7 linked regions of the Homo sapiens genome follow. The protein of the gene in region 2 purifies or fractionates together with the protein of the main gene of each other region. This does not show direct contact. Each region holds a gene or a part of one and is shown on either strand. Other genes may lie near its edges.

Region 1 (4,017 bases), on a different chromosome or scaffold from region 2:
TGGATTACCTGAGGTCAGGAGTTCAAGACCAGCCTGGCCAACATGGCAAAACCCTGTCTCTACTAAAAATACAAAAATTAGCCAGGTGTGGGGGCAGGCACCTGTAGTCCTAGCTACTTGGGAGGCTGAGGCAGAAGAATCACTTGAACCTGGGAGGTAGAGGTTGCCGTAAGCTGAAATCATGCCACTACACTCCAGCCTGGGCAACAGAGTGAGACTCCGTCTCAAAACTAAATAAATAAATAAAATAAAAATCCCAAATACCTAGGAAGTCAGCTGATAAAGGCATAGGCTGAAGCTATATGGCCTGGGTTCAATTTCTAGCCCTGCTTCTTTTTTTTTTTTTTTTTTTTTTTTTTGAGATAGAGTTTTGCTCGTCACCTAGGCTAGAGTATAGTGGTGTGATCTTGGCTCACTGCAACCTCTGCCTCCCAGGTTCAAGTGAGTCTCCTGCCTCAGCCTCCTGAGTAGCTGGGATTACAGGCGTCCACAACCGTGCCCAGCTAATTTTTGTATTTTTGGTAGAGATGGGGTTTCACCATGTTGCCCAGGCTGGTCTTGAACTCCCGACCTCAGGTGATCCACCTGCTTTGGTCTCCCAAAGTGCTGGGATTACAGGCATGAGCCACCACGCCTGGCCTCTAGCTCTGCTTCTTACACACTGTGTGTCCTTGGGCAAATTATTTAACTGGTTTGTGTCCTATATTTATCCATATGCAATACAGGGATAATATTAAAACCTACAACCTATGGTTGTTGAGAGGAATAAGTGAGATTATGCATATAAAGTGCTTAGAACAGGGCCTGGCATATAGAAAATACTTGATAAATGTTAGCTGTTACTATTTTCATTACCTTCATCACTATCATGGACTTGCTGGTTAACTTGGAAAAATCATTTAACCTGTATTTTCCTCACTAGTCCAAAGATCTGACCTTTGCCTATCTTTTAAAAGAATCAAGTAAAATAACAGGCTTTTTCCGGGCATGGTGGCTAACACATGTAATCCCAGCACTTTGGGAGGCTGAGGCGAGTGGATTACCTGAGGTCAGGAGTTCGAGAGCAGCCTGGCCAACATGGTGAAACCCCATCTCTACTAAAAATACAAAAAAAAAAAAAAAAAAAATTAGCGGGGCGTGGTTGTGGGTGCCTGTGATCCCATCAACTTGGGAGGCTGAGGCAGGAGAATTGCTTGAACCCAGGAGGCAGAGGTTGCAGTGAGCCAAGATCACCCCATTGCACTCCAGCATGGGTGACAAGAGTGAAACTCCGTCTCAAAAAATAAATATGTACATAATAAAAACAGGCTTTTTAGAATAACACGCCCTCCAAAAGAACTTCTGATGGTTCGCTCTCACCTACAGAACAAAGCCCAGCTTTCAAGGTATTTGAACATTCAGCCCCTAACCCACCCTTCCAGGCTTCTCCTGCACCCTACAAACCAGCCACATAGAACCCCTTTCTTGTGCCTAGTAGAAGTGGTCATCATTGGTCATCTCTTTGCTTTGGTCATGAGGTCCCTTCAGTTTACATTGTCTTTCCCATTTTCTCCCAAACATCTATCAAGCTTGTCCAACCTCCAGCCCAGGGACCACATGCAGCCAAGGACGGCTTGGAATACAGCCCGACACAAATTCATAAACTTTCTTAAAACATTATGAGATTTTTTCACATTTTTTTTTTTTAGCTTATCAGCCATCGTTAGTGTTCGTATATTTTATGCATGGCCCAAGACAATTCTTCTCCCAGTGTGGCTCAGGGAAGCCAAAAGATTGGAGACCCCTGATCTAAATACTCCATGTACATGAAGGTCACTTTCACTGCTGTTTCTTCCCAGAAATGTCTAGGTCCTTCAGGTAGAAGTAATCTTTTTCTTCTTGTAATTATTTTTATGTTCTTTTTAATCCTAGCTTCTGAGGCCTATAAGGTTAAACTGTTCTCATCTTCATGGAATTGTTCAGTAGAGTAAAAACAGTATGCAATTTCACTTAGTTTGTCAAAATCCAGAAACATACTTTTGAATTGTTAAAAAAAAAAAAAAAGATCCACAGGCTGGGCACAGTGGCTCACGCCTGTAATCCCAGCACTTTGGGAGGCCGAGGCCGGTGGATCACCTGAGGTTGGGAGTTTGAGACCAGACTGGAGAAACCCCGTCTCTACTAAAAATACAGAATTATCCGGGCATGGTGGCACACGCCTGTAATCACAGCTGCTTGGGAAGCTGAGGCAGGAGAATCACTTGAACCTGGGAGGCGGAGGTTGTGGTGAGCCGAGATCATGCCATTGCCCTCCAGACTGGGCAACAAGAGCAAAACTTGATCTCAAAAAAAAAAATCCATAGAATTAATAAACAAAACCTGGCTGGGCAGGGTGGCTCAGACTTGTAATCCCAGTACCTTGGGAGGCTGAGGTGGGAGGATCACTTGAACCCAGCAGTTTGAGACCAGCCTGGGCAACATAGCAAGACCCCATCTCTATTTAAAAGAAAAAATTTAAAAAAATAATAAACAAGACCTAAAGGTTTTACAGTTTAACTCTTTTTTTTTTTTTTTTTTTTTTGGAGACAGGGTCTCACTCTGTCACCCATCAAAGGTGCAATCCTCCCAACACAGCCTCCCGAGTAGCTGGGACCATAGGTACATGCCACGACACCCAACCTTTTTTTTTTTTTTTTTTTTTTTGAGACAGTTTCACGCTTGTTGCCCAGGCTGGAGTGCAGTGGCATGATCTTGGCTCACTGCAACCTCCGCCTCCCAGGTTCAAGCAATTCTCTTGCCTCAGCCTTCCGAGTAGCTGGGATTACAGGCATGCACCACCATGCCTGGCTAATTTTGTATTTTTAGTACAGACGGGGTTTCTCCATGTTGGTCAGGCTGGTCTTGAACTTTCGACCTCAGGTGATCTGCCCACCTCGGCCTCCCAAAGTGCTGGGATTACAGGCATGAGCCACTGCGCCCAGCATTTTTTTAATTTTTAGTAGAGACAAGGTCTGGTTATGTTGCCCAGGCTGGTCTTGAACTCCTGAGTGCAAATGATCCTCCCACCTAGACCTCCCAAAGTGCTGGAAGTACAGGCGTGAGTCACCTCACCTGACTCCATAATATTTTAAAAGAATGGTGAGAATTAAACACTATACACACAAAGTATATTAAGAAAGTATAGGCCTGGCGTGGTGGCTCACGCCTGTAATCCCAGCAATTTGGGAGGCTGAGGTGGGTGGATCACCTGAGGTCAGGAGTTCAAGACCAGCCTGGCTAACATGACCAAACCCTGTCTCCACTAAAAATACAAAAATTAGCTGGGCCTGGTGGTGGGCGCCTGTAGTCTCAGCTACTTGGGAGGCTGAGACAGGAGAATTACTTGAACTCAGGAGGCAGAAGTTGAAATGAGCAGAGATCACACCATTGCACTCCAGCCTGGGCAACAGGGTGAGACTCTGTCTCAAAAAAAAAAAAAAAAAAAAAAAAGTATATTTGGGGCCAGGCAGCTCACACGTGTAATCCCAGCAGTTTCGGAGGCCAAGGTGGGCAGATCAATTGAGCCCAGGAGTCCAAGACCAGCCTGGGCAACCTGACAAAAACCCATCTCCACAAAAAAAATACAAAAATTAGCTGGGCATGGTGGCACATGCCTGTGGTCTCAGCTACTCAGGAGACTGAGGCACGAGGATCACTTGAGCCACGGAGGTGGAGGTTGCAGTGAGCTGAGATCATGCCACTGCTCTCCAGCCTGCACTGCACTCCAGCCTGGGCGACAGAGGGAGACCCTGTCTCAAATAAATAAATAAATAAGCATATTTGTCAATAAACATTTAAAAATATTTGATAAGACAAGTATAAATGTATATTAGCAAAATCATGAATGATCTTGGACCCTGGAGAGATTTCATTTCTAATTTTACATCAGTACAACAGCTTTCATTTTCTTAAATCCCTGATCAAGCAGAAATGCTTGAAAAGAAAGAGCACAGCAGGCCGGGCGTGGTGGCTCATGCCTGTAATCCCAGCACTTTGGAA
Region 2 (4,017 bases):
CCTTCTGCCTTCTTTCTGCCCCTTCTGTCTCAGGCGCTTGGTGCTCTCAGGTTGTCATAAATGCCCAATGTGGGACTAGTGGAAAAGAGAATGTCCTGCTTCCTCAGAGGTAGCATACAGGAGCCCATGGACTGCTGCTTTTGGTTTAAAAACGTGTTTTGTTCACACAGCGTTTTAAAACATGAATCAGGCTGGGCGCGGTGGCTCACGTCTATTATCCCAGCACTTTGGGAGGCTGAGGTGGGAAGATCGCTTAAGTTCATGAGTTTGAGACCAGCTTGGGCAACATGGAAAAACCCCTATCTATAAAAAATTTTTAAAAAATGAGCTGGGAGTGGTGGCGTGCACCTATGGGCCCAGCTACTCAGGAGGCTGAGGTGGGAGGATCACTTGAGCCCAGGAGGTGGAGGTTACAGTGAGCTGAGATGGCGCTACTGCACTCCAGCCTGGGTGACAGAGCCAGACCTTTCTCAAAAAAACCCCAAAGACCACAAATCAAACTTTATAAGAGTCTGAATTTTTGTTTCTTTTGAAGACAGTTATCTAGATTGAGTTTTAAATGGGGCAAACACTCCCCATTGGCAACAATGCCTTACCATCCTTTTCATGCTGCTAAAGCTGTGTGTCATTTGCCATCATCACCAGGCTTAAGCCATTTCGTTACAGTTAAGGAGAGAGTAAACTGTTCCTCATACCTTGTTGAAAGGGACTTTTGTTTCAAAAAATGTCTGACAACATGCAACTAACAGCTGTATTCTCTGCCAGGGCCCCTAGGCACCAGAGTTGTGACATGGCACACTCCTTCCCCTGTGACAATTAGGTCTCTTAATAGAGATAAATGGGGACCAAAACTATAGTCATGGACAGTGTGGGAGCCATTTATTTAGAATTAATGAAATGACTGAAACTAGCTTGCACCGCTAGCTGGCAGGAATCCTTGGAGTGCAGCTGTGTGATCTAAATCCATTTTGGTCCCTGATGGCGATGGTTGCCCATTTTGGTTTAAATATCCATGGGGAGAATTCTGGGTCCTGACTGGCTGGTTCCTTTTTGTTGCCACAATCTGGGGAGATTAGACTGGCAGAATACTGGGTACATGTATATTGATATTTCACCTCCCTATCACTTCCCAAGGCAGGGCTACCTGTCAGTATTTTCTCCACTTAAGAATGGTAAGCACCATTCTGGTATCACCCATTGCTTTGTGGCTCTCGCCAGGAAGAGATTACTATGAACTTGTGAGAGACCTGGACTTGCAAAGCTTGTTTGGACTTAGAGTAGATCCCAGAGTTGTTTGCTGGCAAAACACAGCCTGTGTTCTGGATATCACAGGTGTCTAGTTAATAATGGGTGTGAGGGACTTTACCTCCCCCTAAAACTTCTTTGAGGGCAGAAATGGACTAGTTGACATCTAATCATAAGTCTACTTCTTTTAGGGCAGGTTGAGAGGACAGGTACCATTTATTCTGTCACAGAAACAGAAGGCTGCTAAATGTGGGAGAGTTCTTGCAAGGATTTCACTAACTTGGTGCTCTCTTCCCTTATTGTTGCATTTTATTGAACTTTCGGGAGAGCAGATATCTGTGACTTAGTAAATGTTGTCACCATATGTCACAGATTAAGCCCATCTTTTTTTTCTGGAGAAAGGGAATAAAGTCACCAATAACATGGCGATTGTTAGGAGGCCCTTAAGGGGTGTTTGATCAAGGGTCTTTCAGAGTAATTACCTGGGCAGTTAGGCTGTTCTACAGTCATCTCTCTGTGGTCCTCAGTTCAGACTAGATGTGAACCATCCTGACTTTGAAATGCAGAGTAGTCCCTAGACTGTTGCAACTAGTTTGTTGGGGTGGGATCAGGCAGCGACTTGGCATTTATTTATGCATTTTTTAATCTGCCAGAGCTTCCTGTAGTTAAATAGGCATGATAAATAAAGTTATTTAAAGGAGTCTTTACATAAAACTACTGAATATTCTTACATTTCTTTTTGTAGTTCTTGGTTAGTAGAGAAATTACTGGTGGCCAAATCTCACGGTCTTTACTGTTTTTGCATACTAACACATACTTCACAATATTAAATTGCATTAGATCACAGAAAAACATATTTACTTGTCTGATTAGCAAAACAAGGATAGAATGATGTGGCTTTCAAGTGGTTTGCAAAAATGCCTCTAGAAAAGTAGAGAGGTAATATTGTCTAGTAATTAAAAATTTGTTTTTATTTGGCTTTTTAAAAGTAAATGTGGAGACTTCATTTAGAGGTTTACTTCTAAGTTTCACAAATGTAACAATAACTTTTATTGTTTTCAGGCTGGATCTTACAGAGAAAGACTATGAAATACTTTTCAAATCTATTAATGGGTAAGTTGGCAGCATTGGTTTCATACGGTATATGAGTGGTCTACATATGTCTGCTTTTGTAAAAGAAATCATATAAATATTATACATGTTTCTATGTAACTGTCTTAGAGTGGTATAGTATTAGTGTTCTGAGTTCTTTTATAGGATTTATTTTCTTGGGAGATGCAAAAGTCCTTCAAAAGAGGAAGAGGCAGGTTAGGAAATGTATAATTGTTACATAGTAGACACACATAATTTTTTTAAATGTGTGACTTAATCTTTGTTCTTTTAATGCTTGTCTTAAATGTTTTGAAGCTACCTTGAATGGCGTGGCATACTGCTTGCATATGGGGTTTATAAGTCCAAAGTCTGAGGATGTTGATTTTTTTTTTCAGGTAAATTGGGAAAAAATATTCACCATTACTCTTAATTTTAGGAAAGAAGGCTAATTACAGCAATCAAAAACATTTAATTACCATGTTGGCAGAGATCAGAAAATTTGCTTATACTCTATGGGGCCTGTGAGGAAACAAGTGTGCTCATACTTTATTAGAGGGAATGTAAATCAGGTAGTCTTTTTTGGGGTAATATTGCAATACCTATTGAAATTAGAAACACGTATACCCTTTGACCTGGGAACTTGAGGAGGAATTTTATTTTATAAATATATTCCCACCTTGCATGAAGACTTAGACTCAAATCTATGCATTGTATTAGTAGTATTGTCTGACAGTCACCCCGTAATCCATCAGGTGAGAATTGGTTAAATAAAACAGACTATGTACATTCAATAGAATACTATGCAGGAATTAAAAAATGCGGCTATCTGTAGATGCTGACTTAGATCACCATTGTCCTATGAACAATGTGATAGTGTTATGTGAAAAAGGCAAGGCACGTGATGGTGTGTATAGCATACACCCCGTTTGCTTTTTGTTAAAGGTGGGGGTGAAGAGATATGCATATTTCTACCAAATCAACACAGCAGATTTTAATGGCAGTTGTTTCTGATTGGGAATAGGGTGGAAGTATTTTACTGTAAAATGTTTTTTTAAAAGAGCTTTATTATTTTTACTTCTAAAACCATGTTAATTTATTGTTTCTTTTAAAAAGCTATGTTTAGAAAATTATTTGCCTTCAGTTCAGTTTGGTTCAGTAAATATTTACCATAAAATCAGTTCAATTTAGTAAAACATTTACAATGCCCAGTATGTGCTGTGTGCAAGGTACTTTGGCATGGACAAAGATCATTAAGTCTAGGCTAGAATATAATAGTAGAACCTCAAAAATAGACCTTTTGAAACACTTCATTTTCTTCCCACCCTCTCCCCAGTTGCATTCCTGTTTGGAGAGGAATCTGAATCAAGTAGCAGTGTAGACAGGAATACATACTTTGGGGAGCTAGCCTGTCCAGATGCTCAGTATGTCTTCATGCAAACCAGCAAAAGGAGTCCATTTTCTATCTTCCTCACTCGTTTTCTGCATTGCCACTAATTGTTGCTCCTGTAGGCCCCTTTTCTCTCTCATGTAGTCACTGAAAGCTGCACTCCAAAGTGGGTTAAATTAGGGGCCTTATTTATATCTCTGAGTGTCACCAGAAAATGAGCCGTATTCTAATGTGACTTCAAAAGCACCTTTATTGAGTCACTGTTATGCAGTGGACCCCATAGTATTTTGCAG
Region 3 (4,017 bases), on a different chromosome or scaffold from region 2:
CCTTATTCTGCCCATTCTGACCCCAGCTGGAGTGAGGACAAATGACATCTCAGGCAGTGCATGCATGGGACTTCCCCCCCCATCCAGTTTGACCCTGACCCCACTGCATGAGGCTCCCTGCTTTTTCAGTCTTACAGGCAGGGTTTGGGAGGCCGCCTCGTGACTGTCATGTGGATGAACCACGAGACAGGAAAAGACTTGTTTCTAGATATTCTGTCCTGATTGACAGTAAATTTTAAATAGACGTCTCTCTTTTTTTTTTGTTTTGAGATGGAGTCCCGCTCTGTTGTCTGGGCTGGAGTGCAGTGGCGCGGTCTTGGCTCACTGCAACCTCCACCTCCTGGGTGCAAGCAATTCTCCTGCTTCAGCCTCCCAAGTAGCTGGGACTACAGGCATGCACCACCATGCCCAGCTAATATTTATATTTTTAGTAGAGACGGGGTTTCGCCATGTTCGCCAGGCTGGTCTCAAACTCTGACCTCAGGTGATCCACCCGCCTCGGCCTCCTGAAGCGCTGGGATTACAGGCGTGAGCCACCATGCCTGGCAAATAGCCGTTTCTTAGAAACCTCAATTCCTAGTCATGATTTACAGTGCCTGATTTCTGTACCAGAATGAGACACATTGCTGAAAATTTGTCCCTTTTCCTTTTCAGTTTAAGAACAAGGTTTAGTGTAACCTGTTTCTGGCTCTTTGTTGTCATCTGTCAAGGGCCATTTTCTGGGTTTTGGTTTTCGTTGTAACATCTGCACTTCTCAGCAATCCTCAGGAGGAGGCAGGAAGGATGGGACTTAACACCATAGCATCCTTGAAATAGGCCGTTCCATGCAGGGAGTATTTTAAGCCTCCCTTTTATCCTCCCTGCCTCGCTTGTGTGGGTTCATTCCCCAGGGCGTGCCAGGTAGAGAAAACAGCCATGTGGAACCCAGCCAGCTGAGAAGGCAGTGGCTGGAGAGGCTGGTGGCGTAGGAAGTGTCACCATGCACCCTGGTGATGAGAACAGGGTAGGCCACCTTACCAGGTAGTGGCCAGAGGTGTGGGGACCCTCAGGGGACCTCTTGGCTTCAGGTGAGACACCCCCAACTCTCCCTTTCTCCAGGCCATGTGCATGATCATAAACGGTTTAATTTCTTCATTGCGCTTCCATGTAGATTGCAAGGCTAACAGGACTTGGTATGAACTAACCCGCATGTCCATCCACTGAGCTGCCAGCACCGGTAACACCGTGTTGAGTGAGAAGTGAGTTGGGCGATGCTGGGTTGCACGCCTGACTTCGCCTTTTCTCCCCTGACCCAAAGGTGGCGACCTGCACATGACCCAGTTTTTCCGAGGCAATCTGGCTGGCTTAACTCTCCGTTCCGGGAAACTCGCGGATAAGAAGGTGATCGACTGTCTGTATACCTGCAAGGAGGGGCTGGACCTGCAGGTCCTCGAAGACAGTGGCAGAGGCGTGCAGGTAACACCGAGCGCTCGACTGCACACCACTCATGGGCCCCTTAGACTACAGCCCCGGAGGCTGGTGGGATGAGGGAGTGAGTAATCTGTGATTGATACGTTTACTGTTGGGTAAAAGAGTTGTGTTCACTGGACTTAAACGAGCTTTTCTTTTTCAAGTCAGCAATTCAAATCGAACCCAGGCCAGTCCCCTTTGTGGAGGCATCTGTGGTTTCAGCTCCTGCGGTTACTGGCTTATTCTTCTCCTCTCTGTGGCTGGTGTGATTTCAGATCCAAGCACACCCCAGCCAGTTGGTATTGACCTTGGAGGGAGAAGACCTCGGGGAATTGGATAAGGCCATGCAGCACATCTCGTACCTGAACTCCCGGCAGTTCCCCACGCCCGGAATTCGCAGACTCAAAATCACCAGCACAATCAAGTACGTCCTGATTTTTAACAGCCGGCCTGTTTTGCCCAATGACACTTGTATATTTAGGTTTTTAAGACAGCCTAACCCCTTCTGTAAGGAAAGGTGAGCCATCGTGTGTAACCAGAAAGTGTGGGGCAGAGAGCTGAGTGATATTTACGCATCTTGTTTGCAAGTGTGTTCCTGGAGTGGCCCCGGCAGGTGTTAGTGGGGGCCTCTGTATCCCACCTCCATGTGCCTTTGCACAGGTGGGCTCCAAGATCGGCTCCCAAAGCCCTGACCCTTCCCCATTTCTTGCTGGCAGGTGTTTTAACGAGGCCACCTGCATTTCGGTCCCCCCGGTAGATGGCTACGTGATGGTTTTACAGCCCGAGGAGCCCAAGATCAGCCTGAGTGGCGTCCACCATTTTGCCCGAGCAGCTTCTGAATTTGAAAGCTCAGAAGGGGTGTTCCTTTTCCCTGAGCTTCGCATCATCAGCACCATCACGAGAGAAGTGGAGCCTGAAGGGGACGGGGCTGAGGACCCCACAGGTAATGTGCTCTGTGGGGCGCGGGCTCCCTCGCCTCGGCCGGAAACCCCATTGTCCCCATGTACTTGGCGGGGCTCTTTGTCTCTGTGGGATTTGGGGAGGTTTTAATCTTTCGTTGGTGTTCTCTCGGGTGTGCTTCTGGAATCTGACCCGTGAGCTGGAGCTCATGGTGATCTCTGGAATCCCATCTGGAGGGGTCTTACATCTTTTCCTGGTTGCTGCCAGGCTTTGAGATGTGGCTTGAGGTTGAGGGGTTGAGGGCACTTACGGGAGACACTGCTTGCACCTGCCAGGCTGGCCAGCCCATGGAGGCACAATGTCCCCACAATTCTTGCTCAGGACACATGAAACTCCCCCCCTTTTTTTTTTTTTTTGAGATGGAGTCTCACTCTGTCGCCCAGGCTGGAGTGCAATGGTGTCATCTTGGCTAACTGCAGCATCCACCTCCTGAGTTCAAGCGATTCTCCTGCCTCAGCCTCCCGAATAGCTGGGATTACAGGGACCTGCCACAACGCCCGGTTAATTTTTGTATTTTTAGTAGAGACGGGCTTTCACCCTGTTGGCCAGGCTGGTCTCAAACTCCTGACCTCAGGTGATCCACCCGTCTTGGCCTCCCAAAGTGCTGGGATTACAGGCGTGAGCCACTGCGCCCAGCCGTTTCTTGAAAGCAACTCTCGCTTGCTTCTGTCGTTGGTCCTTACGAGAGCCATGTAGGTTTGGGGTGAGCCGGCAGGGCATCCAGTGTGCCCCGCCACGCTGGGCCCCACTGCCCCTACTTAATATTTCTGGTTGGGCCTCTTTTGCAGTTCAAGAATCACTGGTGTCCGAGGAGATCGTGCACGACCTGGATACCTGTGAGGTCACGGTGGAGGGAGAGGAGCTGAACCACGAGCAGGAGAGCCTGGAGGTGGACATGGCCCGCCTGCAGCAGAAGGGCATTGAAGTGAGCAGCTCTGAACTGGGCATGACCTTCACAGGTAAGGGGAGCGCTGCAGCCACGCAGGTGGGCCAGGCTGCAAGAGGGGACTTTGAGAGCTCTTGGCTGGCTGCTGCCTGCCATCTGAGAATGTTGAGTTATCTTAGAGGGAGATGGGGAAGGAGCACGTTCGCTGGGATCATTGTTGGCTGCACGCATACTCCTGTCTCCTGGACAGGTACCGGATGTGTAGCCACTACTCTCTAAAGGGGGAGGGTTGAGGCGTGGGATGACACGTCCCCCACAGAGGGAAGAATGCCCCTGTGCACATTGCATTTATTCCCATGGCTAGAAAGCCAACTTGTGTGACCCCTTGGCCTAGCTAACCTGGGTGTCTAATTGAGCCTGCCTGTGCTGACGGCTGCAGCCCTGCCCATGCTCCTGCCCTAAGCCACCCGGCAATCTTCCCCCTTTCAACCCCTGCAGGCGTGGACACCATGGCCAGCTACGAGGAGGTTTTGCACCTGCTGCGCTATCGGAACTGGCATGCCAGGTCCTTGCTTGACCGGAAGTTTAAGCTCATCTGCTCAGAGCTGAATGGCCGCTACATCAGCAACGAATTTAAGGTGGAGGTGAGTACAAGGCTCCCACTGAGCAGGGCCAATAGCAGCAGTGAGTGAGGGCGCTGATTTGCAGCCCTAATATTCACA
Region 4 (4,017 bases), on a different chromosome or scaffold from region 2:
AGGGGTCAGATGCCTGGGTCTGAGGGAGGAGGGGCTGGGGAGCTCCTGGGTCTGAGGGAGGAGGGGGCTGGAGACCTGGACCCTTGGGTTGAGGGAGGAGGGGCTGGAGGCCTGGATTCCTGGGTCTGAGAGAGTAGAGGTGGGGGTCTTGAACTCCTGGGTCTGAGGGAAGAGGAGCTGGGGCCTGGACTCCTGGATCTGAGGGAGGAGGGGGTGGGAGCCTGGCCTCCTGGGTCTGAGGGAGGAGTGGGTAGGAGCCTGGACTCCTGGGTCTGAGGGAGGAGGGGGTTGGTCCAGGCCTTTCTATGATCACACTGTCCTTCCTTGGCCAGATTGAAAACTGGGTGACAGAGGGTCCTAGTGAAGACGAGGCCGTGTGCGTGAACTGCCAGAATAACAGCTATGGGGAGAAATGCGAGAGCTGCCTGCAGGGCTACTTCCTCCTGGACGGGAAGTGCACCAAGTAAGAGGAACCGGGGGGGGGGGGGGGGGGGGGGGGGGGGGAGGCCGGGGATCCCACCCTTCTCACTGGGAGTAGCTCTGGAGCCAGGCCCCCTCTTTAGTCCTCCACCCCCAGTCAGGAGAGGATGACATCCCCAGGGAGCGCCCAGGCTGGGGTCAGGGTAGGGAAGGAGCTGGAATGTGATGCCACTCCCTACCTCCAAGGCTAGTGCTGAAGTGCAGTCCACAGAGCGGCCCCATCGAGAACAAGATGGGGCGGCTGAGGGCAGAGGCCTTGGAACAACCTCCCCTTTCCATCTCCTTCTTTCTGAGTGTTCAGTGAGTGCTGGAGTCTGTGCAACTCGGGTTCTAATCCCAATGGTAATTTAACTGCTTTGTGGCCTTGGGCAAACAGCTTGACCTCTGTGAACCTCAGTTTCCTCTTCTGGCCTGTTGCACAGAGTTGAGCTCACATATGGGGTGTCCATCCTGGACCACTGCAGGCCATGGGGGCTCCGTAACCCTCAACTTCTTCCCCAGATGCCAGTGTAATGGCCACGCGGACACATGTAACGAGCAGGATGGGACGGGCTGTCCATGTCAGAATAACACAGAGACGGGCACATGCCAGGGCAGCTCCCCCAGTGACCGTCGAGACTGCTACAAGTACCAGGTGCGGCTGCAGAAGCTAGTGGTGGGCCGAGGGCCCTACACCTTGTGGAGGTCAGGGCTGGGATGAGGTAGCCAGGCTCGGGCAGGACTGACAACATGGTTCCAAATCAGTGGTTTTGGGATCAAGTGCAGCTTGACAGACTGTTCCTGAGCCCCATTCAGTTACAGGCCCTAGGCAGTGATGCTGGGGACCAAGATATGAGCCTCTGGGGGACTCTCAGACTGGTGGGGAGACAGTCTCCATTACAGGTAGTCACAGCTAAAGGTGGCACATGCCAGAAAATCTATCCCATGGTAGCTCAACCGAAAAAAGAAAATGGGCTGGGCATGGTTGCTCATGTCTGTAATCCCAGAACTTTGGGAGGCTGAGGCGGGAGGATCACTTGAGCCCGGGGGTTCAAGACCAGCCTGGGCCATATAGTGCAACCCCATCTCTGAAAAAAAATTTAAAAATTAGCCTGGCATGGTGGTGCACATCTGTGGTCCCAGCTACTTGGGAGGTGGAAGTGGGAGGATTGCTTGAGCCCAGGAGGTCGAGGCTGCAGGACTCTGTCTCAAAACAACAACAACAACAACAACAACAACAACAACAAACACACACACACACACACACACACAACAGAAGAAAAGAAAATGTATTGACTCTTAGAACTGAGGGTCTGGGGTCTGCCTTCAGGACTGGCTATATCCGGGTGCTCACACAATGCCATCAGAAGTCTCTCTGCATCTTGACTCTGCTTTCCTCTGCATTGGCTTCATTTTCAGGCAGATTCTTCCCAGTTGGCAGACCCCCTCTGATGAACTGAGGCTAGCAGAGATCTCATATCATTTAATACCCAGATTCAAATTCCCCTCGAGTGCATTTCCCTTTTTCTTCTGCACAGAGGCTCCTGGAGTGCCTGCACTGGCCACCTGGCTGGCTGCTGTGTTCCAGACTTGCCTCCATGATGTCCCAGGCTCCTTCCTCAGAGGACAACTCCCGCCACCTCCCCGCCACCTTCTCTCTCCAGTCCCAGAGGGAAGAGAAAGTCCCTTGCTCTCAGTCTTCCTTACCCATCTACAGAAACATAATAGCTGCAAACATAATAGCTGCCACCCCAAATGGCAACAGTTTTACAAGCCTTACTGACCCTTAACATTTCTATCCTGGGCCAGAATTTCTGCTTTTTTATTTTTTTTTTAATTTTTAATTTAATTTAATTTTTTTTGGACACAGAGTATTGCTCTGTTGCCCAGGCTGGAGTGCAGTGGTGGGATCTTTGCTCGAGGCAGCCTCCACCTCCTGGGTTCAAGTGATTATCCTGCCTCAGCTTCCTGAGTAGCTGGGACTACAGGCGTGTGCCACCATGCCTGGCTAATTTTCTGTATTTTAGTAGAGATGGGGTTTCACCATGTTGCCCAGGCTAGTCTCAAACTTCTGAGCTCAGGCAATCCACCTGCCTTGGCCCCCCAAAGTGCTGGGATTACAGGCGTGAGCCACCACACCCAGCCCAGAGTTTCTGCTTTCTTGATAAGGGAAAGGCCTATTGGCTTTTACCAGGGAGTCTCAGAGATTAAATCAGACCTCCTCCTCTACCAGGTCTGTTGGCTGCTTAGAAGTAGCAGTTTTTCTTGGTTCCTTTTTTTTTTTGAGACGGAGTCTCACTCTGTCGCCAAGCTGGAGTGCAGTGGCGTGATCTTGGCTCACTGCAACCTCCGCCTCCCAGGTTCAAGCGATTCTCCTGCCTCAGCCCCCCGAGTAGCTGGGACTACAGGCACGTACCACCACCCCCCGCTAATTTTTGTATTTTTAGTAGAGACAGGGTTTCACCATGTTGGCCAGGATGGTCTTGATCTCTTAACCTTGTGATCTGCCCACCTTGGCCTTCCAGAGTGCTGGGATCACAGGCGTGAGCCACCACCCCCGGCCGGTTCTTTTTTTTAATGTATTTATTTTTAAGACAGGGTCTGGCTCTTTCACCCAGGCTAGAGTGCAGTGGTGCAATCTCAGCTCATTGCAACCTCTGCCTCCCTGGTTTCCATCATCCTCCCACCTCAGCCTCCTGAGTAGCTGAGACTACAAGCATGTGCTATCATACCTGGCTAATTTTTTTTTTAGAGATGGGGTTTTAACCATGTTGCCCAGGCTAGTCTTGAACTCCTGAGCTCAAGCAATCCACTCACCTTGGCTTCTCAAAGTGTTGGGATTCTAGGCGTGAGCCACCGTGCCTGGTTGGGCTTTTGGGTTTTTTTTTTTTTTTTTTTTTTTTTGATACAGGGCTTACTCTGTCACCCAGGCTAGAGTATAATGGCGCAATCATAGTTCACTGCAGCCTTGAACTCCTGAGCTCAAGTGATCCTCCTGCCTCAGCCTCCTGAGTAACTGTAACTATAGGCACACACCACCATGCCTGGCTAATTTTAAAAAAATTTTAAAGACGGGGGTCTTACTATGTTGCCCAGACTGGTCTCGAACTCCTGGGCTCAAGCGGCACTCCTGCCTCAGCCTCCTGAAGCACTGGGATTACAGGCATGAGTCACTGCGTCTGTTTTCTCTTGGTTCTAATAGTGATTGCAGTAATAACTAGAATGCCAGGAGCGCCTGCCACAGAGCTGGATGCTGTGCTGTGTAGACAGTGGTGACAGCATAGATATGAAAGGCTTTGCAAGACTGTGCTGGGGCCTCAGTGGGGTACAGACTTAAGAGGAAGACAGATTCAGAGACATTAAATGTCCTAGCTGGGCACAGTGGCTCATGCCAGCACTTTGAGAGGCTGAGGCGGGCAGATCACTTAAGGTCAGGAGTTCGAGACCAGCCTGGCCAACATGGTGAAACCCCTTCTCTACTAAAAATACAAAAATTAGTTGGGTGTGGTGGCGGACACCTGTAATCCCAACTACTCGGGAGGCTGAGGCAGGAGAATC
Region 5 (4,017 bases), on a different chromosome or scaffold from region 2:
ATATACATACAAATTATATTTCCATTAAAACCCAAACTTAAAGGTGTATAGAAAAATATTTTCTTAATTCAGCTTCCTGGAACTAGAAGCATTTTAGAGGTGACACAACTACCATATCTATACATTTTATCTAAAATTAAATTCACTAAAAGATGGGCTGATAATATAGGTCCCCAAGAAACTGATATCCTTTAATATTTGTTCACCATTTATTTAGAAGGCAGCTAGGCACATAAAGAAAGAGTGAAGAAGTGAGCATTTCACCCATGTCCCCAACTAGCAGAGCCTCTGGACAAAACAGAAGTTTTCCAGCCAACCTGACTTGCCCTCCCCAGATGGCAGCTTAGTTACCAGATAGTGTTATTTATCTAAGCCCTTTGTGTGTTGGGGTGGAATGGGGAGCCGCCCACCGTGAGAGACTCCACCACGAGAGACTTGTCAAATAATTTATTTGAGCCATGTACTATCAAAAGAATATTATGGTTACTGTAATGTTCTCCATCTAATAATTTTCTATATTTTAAGACTCCTTAAAGACTGACGCCCTAGGAAAACATCTGCAATCTACCCTTCGGTTGTGCTCTACACCAGACAGAAGGGCCTGGGGAAGGAGTATGGCATGCGCTATGTTTCTTTCTGCAGCTGGGCTAGAGGAAAGGAATGCAGGCAGGACTCCACAGGTGCAGAGTCAATCAGTATGTTCCCTGGTCAAAAAGTCACCAGGAAAGGAGCAATGGGTCACTCCTGGTCTCCATGGCCTGTGTCTTGAGAATAAACTCCTAGGAAAAGAAGAAAGATGCACAAAAGGTTCGTACCTGATTAAATTAATGTGGTTGTTAAAACCTCTGCTAAGACTTCGTGCTGGCATTTGATCTAACCACAGCACGGGCTGGTCTGGGTCAGCAATCCTATAAAACAGAGACCTTTATAAAACCAGAAGTGTTCAGAAGCATTCCAAATAAAACATGTAGAAGTGTTTGCAAAGGTGGGGATAAAGCAACAGCTAGTCCATCATATCTAAAAACGTGATGTCCATACCTACAAATTCCAAACAGATGTTCCAGCTGGACCAGGCGAAAAGCCAGGTAAAGGTAAAGGTTTAGGAGCAGAGGACAGTTTTTGTCACGCAAATGAATATCAAAGGTTACTCTAAACTAGCTAGTTGCCAGGCACACCATTATCTGTAAAGGGACTGGTCCAGCGAAGTTCATTCAGAGGTACCACAGGTAATGGATCTGTTCTTTCAAAGAGACTGTTTCTAAAATGCTTCATGTAAATAGGTGATTGAAAATGTGACAACAATCAATTCGTTTTTTTTGTTTTTTGAGATGGAGTCTCGCTGTGTCGCCCAGGCTGGAGTGCAGTGGCGCGATCTCGGCTCACTGCAAGCTCCGCCTCCTGGGTTCACGCCATTCTCCTGCCTCAGCCTCCGGAGTAGCTGCGACTACAGGCGCGCACCACCACGCCCAGCTAATTTTTTGTATTTTTAGCAGAGACGGGGTTTCACCGTGTTAGCCAGAATGGTCTCGATCTCCTGACTTGGTGATCCGCCCGCCTCGGCCTCCCAAAGTGCTGGGATTACAGGCGTGAGCCACTGCGCCCAGCCAATCAATTCCTATTTTGAAAATATTAGTTAAGTGTATGTCAAATAATAAAGATGCCAGCAATTTCTAACAAACTTTAGAGAGGAAAACCTAACTTGGAAGGCCTGGTGTTAGCAAGCAAAACAGGGTTCATAGCCTGTTAGCTAAAACAGACTGACGTTATTTGACAATGATAAGACTTATAGTTTATTTTCACTGAGATGTTAGTTACCTTCTCCATTTAACTGCAATGTCAAACATGTCTCTCCACTGCATCAACCGTGTCTTCCCATTCATTCGAACTTTCGAGTTGGTCCATGTACGCTGCACGGCTTGCATGACCTCCAATGCGGCCAAACCCATAGCTACGAGAAAGGAATATCGAGAAGAGTTAGTACACTTTAGAGGGACTGAGTTCCACCTACTTTACAGAGTCTCAGTGATAACTCAAGAGTTAACACATAAAGGGTCAGAAGTATTGGTGATATAACAAGACCCAAGGCACGTTTCAGTCATGATGGTCCTACTAAAATTAAAACCCATCAGAGTTAACTGAAGACAACTCAAGTTGTCTGCTCCCAACTCTGCCTCCTACTGAAACAAGTGGAGGTTTGCATTCTTCCTCACTCCTATAGTAAGGAAATAGCTCCCTGGATCAGCTGTCTGATTTTGAGTAAGGACTTAAGACCTATATTCTAGTTTATACTACAGCAATAGCAAAAAAGCCAAGGATGGAAGCAGTCTTCTTTCAGAATTCAGTTTGAATGATTCTACACATTTCTATTCTGATCACATGGAGAATTTGAATAAGCACAATAAATACTAATTTATTAAAATGCACAACATGGCTTAACCACCCTTCCTCTTATGCCAGGAATATTTTCATTTTCAGGTAGTTTCCAGAATACCTCTGTGTATTCTCTTGTTTGGCAGGAAACCAGGTGTTTCATATTGCATCAGGGATCCCAAACGATCAGCCACACAAATCAGCTCCTGTACTTCAGGCTTATAACTCTCAAAATTCTGATGTAACACATCTCTGGAAGAAACATCATGTACATGATAAGGACTTTTACAACAGACATTTGGTAATCCAATTCCACCTGAGAAGCAGTCACTTCCTCCACGGGAAAACTAATGAAGCAGTCTACGACCACATAATCCTTACTTCAGTCCTTTGCACCCAACCATACCTCAGCTTAAAAGGGAATCTCTATGATGGCATGTGCATAATTGCCATCACATGCTGGTTAGTAACAGTGAAAACTATGATAACTAGTATGCAATTCAGAAGACACCTCTTTCCATTATTTGCTTTGTAAACTTCTCCAGAATACATTCCTGAATGGACTGCCTTTTTCAACAAGCAACCAAACCTCTGCCCTTTGTCCACTCCTCAACCCTGCCCAAGTTGTATTAGAACAAGTATACTTGGAATGATACATTGAAATACTACTGTTTAGCTGCCAACCTGCTTGATGCTTTTATAACAAAGACTGAAACTCTAAATTACAGGTTGTTCTGGGGATCTCCAAGACCATCCTTACTCAGGCTCAGAAATTGGCTGAAAGGGCTCAGTGGACTTAGCACATAATGATACTCACAATAGTGAGTATCATTTTTTATTTTGTGTCCTTTACAAAACAAAACCGGCAGAGGGAAGAGGCACATTGGGAGAAGTCTGGAGGAAACCAGTCACAAGCTTCCAAGGGTCCTCTCCCAAGGAAGTCATATATGACACATTAAATTCTCCCAGCGATTAGTTGCGAACACGTGTAAAATGCTGCCAACCAGGAAAGCTCATTAAAGACTCAGTGGCCAGGGTTACAGACAACTTATGCCTGGCAAGTTCCCAAATTCCAGATACCCAGAAGGAAAGCAAGTGTTGAATAGAAATCACACTGTTTGAACACACAGTTTAGGCACAGGGAACCTCTCCTATTAGTTTTGGGAGTGGTAGGAATCCCCTCGAAATCCAAGTTCCCAGATACCAACCAAGGGTCACTCTTGCAAGCAGTCCTTTCTAAGGACAGCAGTCATAGACCTGCTACTATGTTAACTCTTTTGTGCATCGAAATATTTCTCAAAAAAGGAGTAGTTCGAGAACATGCATAATCTCCATGAGCAATCAATTTTCTTTTTATTATTTTTGCTCATTTAATAGTTGAGACACATAGAAAACACGAAGTCAAATTACCCAGTTTAAGAACTAGAGCAATTCATGCAGTTGTATCTACTTGTATGCTGCTTTCCTATCCCATCCTCCCATCTCTTGAAATGTGTGCTCCTGACTCACGTACCTTTTTAAAAACTAGGTTTGTTACATACATGTATATATACAATATACTCTACAGTTTGGCTTATGAGCTTTGGGAGAAAAAAATATGTGAGAGCACAGCTTACTGACTTGCTGCTTTTATTCAACATTACATTT
Region 6 (4,017 bases), on a different chromosome or scaffold from region 2:
ATTGTCATGAATAGTAAGCAATTGCTCAATAACTTACACTTTGTGGAATTACTTAGCTGGTTATATGTAGTCTTATCCTTCATGGAATAAGCTTTTTGGTTTTGTTTTTAAAATTTTGCAACAGGGTATTTTGTTAATGTTATGTTTTCATTAAAAAATGAAGTAGAAAACAATCCAGTTTCTATAGCACGTGGGCAGGAGACGTAACTTTAGAAAAAGCCGACTTGGCCTGGCATGGTGGCTCATGCCTGTAATCCCAGCACTTTGGGAGGCTGAGGCGGGCGAATCACCTGAGGTCGGGAGTTCGAGACCAGCCTGACCAACATGGAGAAACCCCTTCTCTACTAAAAACACAAAATTAGCCAGGTGTGGTGGCGCATGCCCTTAATCCCAGCTACTCGGGAGGCTGAGGCAGGAAGAATCGCTTGAACCTGGAGGCGAAGGTTGCAGCGAGCAGAGATCGTGCCATTGCACTCCAGCCCGGGCAACAAGAGCAAAACTCTGTCTCAAAAAAAGAGAAAAAGCCGACTTACAGAAATTACTGAAGAGTGGTGTAATTTTTGAACTGGGTCTGATTTCCAATACATTTTAATCCAGTTTTTGAATAGATAAAACATTATGGAAATTTTTTTTTCTGTTCAGTATAGTAATTATTATACCATTCTGTATTTAAATGTGACTTTGTTAGGCTTCTATGTGTAAGAGCAATGATATTAAATAGCTCCACTTTGAAATATGTGTTCTAAAATTTGCTCATCATATGCTGCATAAATGTAAGGATTGGAAAATAGTGTATTCTCCTTGTATGCAATCATGATTTACTTACAGTCTTGAAAATTGAATGCTTGTAAAGTTGAGTTAGCAAGTTAAAGCTTATGTCATTTGTAATATACATGTCTAGGCACTACCATTGCCAATTATAGGAATTTCTACTTCTTGGTAATAATCTCGTATTCCATTTCAGGGAAGGAAAAAAAAGAGGACTTCCATCTTCCATTCATTGATATGAGTTCCTGAAAGGGACATTTTAAACTTTTTTTTTTCTGCTTAGGACAGGATAAGAGTCTAGAGCTGTAAACCACAAATATAAAAATTATATATATATAAACATATATATATATGTAAACTTACAAAGAATTAGTGCTTTAGCAAAGTGGTGGTAAGGTCTTTTTTTAAATAATGAAATGTTTTTAAGTGGTTATTATTCATATGTTGTCAGGACTTAATTCGTTCACAAGTTTGAGTGTACTTGATTTTGTTGGTGTTCATAGTCAGGATCTGGAACTGAGGTCTTTTCTGTTTGCTAGCTCTATTATTACCAGTATTTCATAATCTGTGATTATAGTTTTAAAAATGACAATTGCAGTATAACAGGAGGCAAATAAAAATATAGTCAGCAATTTCTTTAACACTTTTTTCAATTCTTGCCATCAGTGATTGGAACTTTGGTAAAAGAAAAGTTAATAGGCCGGGCGTGGTAACTCACACCTGTAATCCCAGCACTTTGGGAGGCTGAGGCGGGTGGATCACATGAGGTCAGGAGTTCGAGACCAGCCTGGCCAACGTGGTAAAACCCTGTCTCTACTGAAAATGCAAAAATTAGCCAGGCATGGTGGCAGACGCCTGTAATCCCAGCTACTCGGGAGGCTGAGGCAGGAGAATCGCTTGAACCTGGGAGGTGAAGGTTGCAGTGAGCTGAGATCGTGCCACTGCACTCTAGCCTAGGTGTGACAGAGTGAGACCCTGTCTCAAAAAAAAAAGAAAAAGTTAATAAAAAATTGTTAAGCTGTGTTTTCCTTTGCTAATTATTTGGCCTTGTCTGGTCATACAATTAACTTGTACTTTTTCCTGTAGTCCTCAAGTCCCTGAACTTGAGAGTGCTTAATTGAAAGGCTGCTTCCTCAGTCGCAACCTTACAGGTTTTGATTTAGTAAAATTCTGGTGTAGTGATCAGACATCTCCATTTTAAACAGTGGTTACGGAGATTTTGTGAAACAGAATTCGCCAAAACACACAACTCTCTTTTTGAGCATTAGTTTTCTCATTTTGGAAGTGAATACTATTTATTTGATTTTTGACAGTTTTTTTAGAGTAGAGCACATCATAAAAAGTATCTTTTGAAAATATGACAAACATTAATAAATATGTACTTAAACTAGGCATTAGTGGTTTATTCAATGTAAGTGCAAAGGCAGAGGCTTCATAAAGCGTTGTTATTTCATGTCACTACACACCTGTGTACCTCTCTCTTAGTAGAACATATAGGGGAAGCAATAAATGGCAATAATAATGGTTTTTTTAAAGGGCTGTCCAGCAAAACCCCCGCTTCAAGACAGATACGTTAAATAATTGTGTTAAGAGGTCATTGTTTTTCTGCATCAGATTTCCTTCTCTGATGATGGCATCTATCATTCATCAGTTTTCTTAGGAAAAATTATAAGATGAATTGTACATAAATTACTAGTAATCATTAAAGTTTGGCTCAGCTCTGTGTGGTGAGTTCATGAAAGCTTGTCTGCTAGCTGTTGTAGTTTCTGATTCTGTTTATGTCCCTTTCTACCTAAATTTTTCTTTTGTTTTTATTGGTATATTTTTTATGAGGAAGAATTAACTTTTTGAAAGATAATAAATAGAATATACTTACCTTTTTTTTTTTTTTTTTCCATTTCTGCTCTTTTAAAATTAGGAATCAAGTACTGGAAATGTTTGATCATGCTTATGGTAACTATATGGTAAGTAGGAAGCTTATCTTTACCTACCATTTATGTGAGTTGATTATTATGTGAGCACAGTCAACTGGGAATTTTGAAACCTACAATACAATTACATTTTTTAAAAGGAAGTTTTTAAAAAACAGGGCAAAAATAGTCTTTCTGGTAGTGGTTTTTAGGGAACCAGTTTATTGAACAGATAAGAATAAATTGAAATTAGATTATGAAACTTCATTATTTAAACAGCTTCCTTGGGTGCCATCAACAATTATCATTGAGTGCTTTATATAGCTAGATATTGTGGATATATACATGAAGATGTTATCTCTGGTCTTAAGGGAGATTATTCTCTTAATTTAAAAAAATGTTTACAATATTTATACACTGAAGAAAACCATTGCTTAAAAGAGAAATTGTTACTTAGCCTCTGTCCTAATTGTATCCTCATGGACTCTGCACTGAATATATTTTGCTTTTTAGTTTGCTGATTCATATTATTTAAAAATGTTTTAGGGCTCACTTAAGATTAAATAGCAGTTTCAGTTTTACAAGATGAAAAGTTCTGGAGATCTGTTGTGCAACAACGTAGATGAAATAGCAAATTCTGGAATTCAAAAAAAATTTTGCACATAAATTGTAATTTGAAAAGAGTTTAAGCATATTATCCTGAAACTTATCCCTTATAACCTTGTTTTTACATTTTAAAATATGTCAGCAGATTTTCTTCTATGATTACAACGTATAAAATGTAGTTGGGAAAGTTTGGCAGAGGACTAGCTTTAGTTCTGCTTAAAATATTTTTCAACTGATTCTGTGAATCCATTTTTTATCATATATTAACCAAATATCTTCATACACTAACATCATTGTTATCTATGAACATCTAAATATATGTAATTTATGCATTTTTAGTTTTAAAACATGTTTTATATTTGACAGTCCTCGTTCTCTTTTATATTGTAAATTTGGAGAGAGCACATTTTGAGTTCTTAATGTTTTTAGGATATGATTTTTTTTGGATACATTTCAACATTAAAAACACAGTTTCAAATTTATTTCTCAAGACCTCAGTCATTCCCTTAATGTTTTTTTTGTTTTTTGTTTTTTGTTTTTTTTTTTGAGACGGAGTTGTGCTCTGTCGCCCAGGCTGTGGAGTATAGCGGCACTATCTCAGCTCACTGCAGCCACCACCTCCCAGGTTCAAGTGATTCTCCTGCCTCAGCCTCCTGAGTAGCTGGGATTACAGGTGTGTGCCACCATGCCTGGCTAATTTTTGTATTTTTGGTAGAGATGGGGTTTCACCATG
Region 7 (4,684 bases), on a different chromosome or scaffold from region 2:
AAGAAATTGGTATGGAGATAAGTACCAGGCCCAAGGACTCCCCCTGCCTCACCCTGACTGCTAACACAGAAAACTACCCTGTAACACAGAAGGGAGCACATGTGGCCACATTATCAAAAGATTTTTAAAGGTCTAAGGCCTTTTTTTCCTCTCCTGGTTTAAAGGACATACTTACTGGAAAATATGATTTTAATAGAAAATCCTATCACCAGAAATGTATACCTTTAGGATTATTGGAAGCAAGGAGCAGTGTAGACAAGGCAGAACCTTCACGCAAACTTCTGGTGCAGCAAATGGACAGGTGGTAGCCTGCAGATGCACTGGGGCAATCAGATGTGGAGAGCCTGCCCTGGAGAGCTGGAAGGCTGCAAGGCTTTACCGTTCCTTCCCCTGGCTCATCTGTGTGCTTTTCCTGTTGCTGGGATTGTGGGGTCATCAGTGAGCCCTCTAGTATCACCTCATCCCTCAAGTCCCCTCACCCTTCTGAATTCATCTGATCACTGGTAGCTCCATTCTCCCACTGGTATCTTCTATTTTCCATCACCTGCTCTGTACAGTCCGCCCTCGAGTCAGCTGCTTCCTCCCTTCTAGCCATTCCATGATATGCTCCTTTAATCTCTGAAGGGCCGTGATTAGAAATTTAGGTTTTAGACTCAGAACCACCCATACTGAGTCACATCTTCCCTGAGCCTCTGTTACTTCAGCTGTACAAAGGGAATGTCCACACTAGCTCCCTGCCAGGGTGGCTGTAACAACTAAAGGAGATAATGAATATAAAACACTTAGTGGGCGCTGTCCTCAGTACACTTGGGCTCTAATCATATTCCTCTGCTGCTTCAGAGGCTTGCTGGCTCTCTGCAGGCAGCAAGCACATAGCTGGACCAAGTCTGGCTACTGAGCCAGGTTCCCAGTGGGAAATGGTGGTTGCTGACATCCAAAGCACTTCGGGTCTGCTGTCCGCCCAAGTGACCAGCCTGGTGCCATGGAGCACACATCTAGCTCCAGGCAAGGAGACTACGTGCTGTTTCCCTGCTGTTTTGTGCCCCCAGCTCCTCACCCTTCCAAATGTGTGTTGGCCACACCAGCAGCTGATGGACCAATGTGTCAGACCCTCCCCAGAGTGCCCAGTTATCCCACTGCCTCATGAGGAGAAGGCAGAGGAGGGGAGACTCCATTTCCAGACATTTCAGCATTACCCAGTGGACAAGCACTGTAGTCAGTCCCCAGGTATTGCTAAACACAAGGGTCACCATGGAGACTGGTCAGTGTCTGACAGTTCTGCTTCTCCTTCCTGGAGTGGCCACGACCTGCAGGACGGAGGGAGTTAAGGGTGGCAAGGGGGAGCACACCGAGGGCTCCGCTTCCAGCTGGAAAGACCAGCCTCCGGCACGTCTGGACTCGGAGAGAGCGCTGCCCGCCTCCCTGCCTCCAGACCCGTTGCTGGAGGAAGGGCTAGGACAGGCCTGAGTTTGTGGCGAATCCCCCTTGTCCACTTCCCTGAGGACACACGCTGCAGGAGAGCAGCCTCGAGTCTTTTCTGCCTTCGAGGTCTCAGGAGCTTTTGTCCCCAAGCCCAGAGGACAGGGGTGGCCCTGACTCAGGCGCCCTCTTCCGGGTAGGGGTCCGCGTGCGCCCTCCCAAGCCCGCGCCCCGCAGGGGCGCCCGCCCCTCTCCCCGCCCCCGGCGTGGGCCCGCCCCCGCGCCTGTGTCACTGCGAGGCCGGGGGTGGAGAGCGGCCGGGCGGGACATCCGGCCCGGGTCCCTCGCCGCGCCCGCCGCCCGCCGCCCGCTTCGGCGCCGCAGCCCGGGAGCCGGCCACCCCTACACGCGCCAGGGCTGTCCCCTGCCCTCCCCTCCCCAACTACCCCCGGTCCCAGACCCTCCTCCCGCCCCCAGCCCGAGCCCGCCTTCCAGGCCGCCCTCGGATCGGCCGGGCCCGCGCAGGCCCCCACCCCTTGAGCACCATGTTCCCCCGCCCGCTGACCCCGCTGGCGGCCCCAAATGGCGCCGAGCCCCTGGGCCGGGCGCTGAGGCGGGCCCCTCTGGGCAGGGCCCGGGCGGGGCTGGGTGGGCCGCCCCTGCTGCTGCCGTCCATGCTGATGTTTGCGGTGATCGTGGCCTCCAGCGGGCTGCTGCTCATGATCGAGCGGGGCATCCTGGCCGAGATGAAGCCCCTGCCCCTGCACCCGCCCGGCCGCGAGGGCACAGCCTGGCGCGGGAAAGCCCCCAAGCCTGGGGGCCTGTCCCTCAGGGCTGGGGACGCGGACTTGCAAGTGCGGCAGGACGTCCGGAACAGGACCCTGCGGGCGGTGTGCGGACAGCCAGGCATGCCCCGGGACCCCTGGGACTTGCCGGTGGGGCAGCGGCGCACCCTGCTGCGCCACATCCTCGTAAGTGACCGTTACCGCTTCCTCTACTGCTACGTCCCCAAGGTGGCCTGCTCTAACTGGAAGCGGGTGATGAAGGTGCTGGCAGGCGTCCTGGACAGCGTGGACGTCCGCCTCAAGATGGACCACCGCAGTGACCTGGTGTTCCTGGCCGACCTGCGGCCTGAGGAGATTCGCTACCGCCTGCAGCACTACTTTAAGTTCCTGTTTGTGCGGGAGCCCTTGGAACGCCTCCTCTCTGCCTACCGCAACAAGTTTGGCGAGATCCGAGAGTACCAGCAACGCTATGGGGCTGAGATAGTGAGGCGGTACAGGGCTGGAGCGGGGCCCAGCCCTGCAGGCGACGATGTCACATTCCCCGAGTTCCTGAGATACCTGGTGGATGAGGACCCTGAGCGCATGAATGAGCATTGGATGCCCGTGTACCACCTGTGCCAGCCTTGTGCCGTGCACTATGACTTTGTGGGCTCCTATGAGAGGCTGGAGGCTGATGCAAATCAGGTGCTGGAGTGGGTACGGGCACCACCTCACGTCCGATTTCCAGCTCGCCAGGCCTGGTACCGGCCAGCCAGCCCCGAAAGCCTGCATTACCACTTGTGCAGTGCCCCCCGGGCCCTGCTGCAGGATGTGCTGCCTAAGTATATCCTGGACTTCTCCCTCTTTGCCTACCCACTGCCTAATGTCACCAAGGAGGCGTGTCAGCAGTGACCATGGGTGTGGGGCCAGCAGCTGGTGGGGACTGGTTTCAACGCCAGCTTTCTGTGCTTCTGCCTGTCATTCGGAGAAACTCTGGCTCTGGGGCTTGGGGCTTCTCAGGATCCTGGATGGCAGAGACTGCCCTCAGAAGTTCCTTGTCCAGGGTGGGCACCCACAGTGACTCAGAGGACAGGGCTAGGCAGGAGACCTGCTGCTCCTCATTGGGGGGATCTCTTGGGGGGCAGACACCAGTTTGCCAATGAAGCAACACATCTGATCTAAAGACTGGCTCCAGACCCCGGGCTGCCAGGATTATGCAGTCCACTTGGTCTACCTTAATTTAACCTGTGGCCAAACTCAGAGATGGTACCAGCCAGGGGCAAGCATGACCAGAGCCAGGGACCCTGTGGCTCTGATCCCCCATTTATCCACCCCATGTGCCTCAGGACTAGAGTGAGCAATCATACCTTATAAATGACTTTTGTGCCTTTCTGCTCCAGTCTCAAAATTTCCTACACCTGCCAGTTCTTTACATTTTTCCAAGGAAAGGAAAACGGAAGCAGGGTTCTTGCCTGGTAGCTCCAGGACCCAGCTCTGCAGGCACCCAAAGACCCTCTGTGCCCAGCCTCTTCCTTGAGTTCTCGGAACCTCCTCCCTAATTCTCCCTTCCTTCCCCACAAGGCCTTTGAGGTTGTGACTGTGGCTGGTATATCTGGCTGCCATTTTTCTGATGCATTTATTTAAAATTTGTACTTTTTGATAGAACCCTTGTAAGGGCTTTGTTTTCCTAATAGCTGACTTTTTAATAAAGCAGTTTTATATATAAGGCGAGCATTTCTGTGATTTCCCTTGGAGCTCCTGTGGGCCCAGCAGATCTCCTCGATGTCTGTCTTCCCATGTCAGGGGAGGCAGCCTGTAGATAGAGAAAGTAAGGTATAACTTGGTTGGGCTGGTCCAATGGGCCGTTGCCATTCCATGGAGACTTTGGGGGCTTTCTAATAGGCTATACCAGATCACAGACTCAGATCCTGGGATGTCACCAAAGGGCAAGCCCAGTTAGGAATGGCCTCACGTCCAGAGCATACCTACATGTATTATTCCCTAAAAAAGTAGGTGGGTAGGAGATACGGGATCCTCCTCTTATTCAATAAGAGTTGAATGAGAAGTTCCCCCAGAGCATTTTCTTTCTTTCTTTTTTTTTTTTTTTTTTTTGAGATGAAGTCTCGATCTGTCACCCAGGCTGCAGTGCAGTAGCACCATCTTGGCTCACTGCAACCTCTACCTCCTGGGTTCTAGCGATTGCCTCAGCCTCCCAAGTAGCTGGGATGATTACAGGCACGCACCACCACACCTGGCTAATTTTTGTATTTTTAGTAGAGATGGGGTTTCACCATGTTGGCCAGGCTGGTTTTGAACTCCTAACCTCAGGTGATCTGCCCACCTCGGCCCCTCCAAAGTGCTAGGATTACAGGCGTGAGCTACCACGCCTGGCCCCGGACCATTTTCAAATGAAAAAGAAAATTTTTGTGTGAGCAAGGAGATTTTTTTCTGGCACTACAAGGAAGGCAGGCAAGGAGGTTGAGTGAGGGTCAGGCTCTTGT

What was found.
Region 1: the proteins of GGH (region 2) and TAPBP purify together in Homo sapiens (affinity purification with mass spectrometry; one large-scale study listed by BioGRID and IntAct). This does not show direct contact.
Region 3: the proteins of GGH (region 2) and CLSTN1 purify together in Homo sapiens (affinity purification with mass spectrometry; one large-scale study listed by BioGRID and IntAct). This does not show direct contact.
Region 4: the proteins of GGH (region 2) and MEGF8 purify together in Homo sapiens (affinity purification with mass spectrometry; one large-scale study listed by BioGRID and IntAct). This does not show direct contact.
Region 5: the proteins of GGH (region 2) and TTC13 purify together in Homo sapiens (affinity purification with mass spectrometry; one large-scale study listed by BioGRID and IntAct). This does not show direct contact.
Region 6: the proteins of GGH (region 2) and EDEM3 purify together in Homo sapiens (affinity purification with mass spectrometry; one large-scale study listed by BioGRID and IntAct). This does not show direct contact.
Region 7: the proteins of GGH (region 2) and CHST14 purify together in Homo sapiens (affinity purification with mass spectrometry; one large-scale study listed by BioGRID and IntAct). This does not show direct contact.

What each region holds. Positions count from the first base shown.
Region 1 is NC_000006.12:33,307,062-33,311,078, forward strand, and holds part of TAPBP (tapasin isoform 1 precursor), read right to left. Parts: intron 1-4,017. UniProt on the Homo sapiens protein: Involved in the association of MHC class I with transporter associated with antigen processing (TAP) and in the assembly of MHC class I with peptide (peptide loading).
Region 2 is NC_000008.11:63,028,508-63,032,524, reverse strand, and holds part of GGH (gamma-glutamyl hydrolase isoform 1 precursor), read left to right. Parts: intron 1-2,307; coding exon 2,308-2,358; intron 2,359-4,017. UniProt on the Homo sapiens protein: Hydrolyzes the polyglutamate sidechains of pteroylpolyglutamates. Progressively removes gamma-glutamyl residues from pteroylpoly-gamma-glutamate to yield pteroyl-alpha-glutamate (folic acid) and free glutamate.
Region 3 is NC_000001.11:9,733,323-9,737,339, reverse strand, and holds part of CLSTN1 (calsyntenin-1 isoform 1 precursor), read left to right. Parts: intron 1-1,297; coding exon 1,298-1,455; intron 1,456-1,724; coding exon 1,725-1,873; intron 1,874-2,165; coding exon 2,166-2,392; intron 2,393-3,197; coding exon 3,198-3,368; intron 3,369-3,793; coding exon 3,794-3,939; intron 3,940-4,017. UniProt on the Homo sapiens protein: Postsynaptic adhesion molecule that binds to presynaptic neurexins to mediate both excitatory and inhibitory synapse formation.
Region 4 is NC_000019.10:42,370,369-42,374,385, forward strand, and holds part of MEGF8 (multiple epidermal growth factor-like domains protein 8 isoform 1 precursor), read left to right. Parts: intron 1-332; coding exon 333-463; intron 464-981; coding exon 982-1,114; intron 1,115-4,017. UniProt on the Homo sapiens protein: Acts as a negative regulator of hedgehog signaling.
Region 5 is NC_000001.11:230,923,026-230,927,042, forward strand, and holds part of TTC13 (tetratricopeptide repeat protein 13 isoform a precursor), read right to left. Parts: intron 2,623-4,017; coding exon 2,492-2,622; intron 1,949-2,491; coding exon 1,816-1,948; intron 909-1,815; coding exon 816-908; intron 1-815.
Region 6 is NC_000001.11:184,748,262-184,752,278, reverse strand, and holds part of EDEM3 (ER degradation-enhancing alpha-mannosidase-like protein 3 isoform 2 precursor), read left to right. Parts: intron 1-2,686; coding exon 2,687-2,732; intron 2,733-4,017. UniProt on the Homo sapiens protein: Involved in endoplasmic reticulum-associated degradation (ERAD). Accelerates the glycoprotein ERAD by proteasomes, by catalyzing mannose trimming from Man8GlcNAc2 to Man7GlcNAc2 in the N-glycans.
Region 7 is NC_000015.10:40,469,250-40,473,933, forward strand, and holds CHST14 (carbohydrate sulfotransferase 14), read left to right. Parts: upstream 1-1,734; 5' UTR 1,735-1,964; coding exon 1,965-3,095; 3' UTR 3,096-3,909; downstream 3,910-4,684. UniProt on the Homo sapiens protein: Catalyzes the transfer of sulfate to position 4 of the N-acetylgalactosamine (GalNAc) residue of dermatan sulfate. Plays a pivotal role in the formation of 4-0-sulfated IdoA blocks in dermatan sulfate.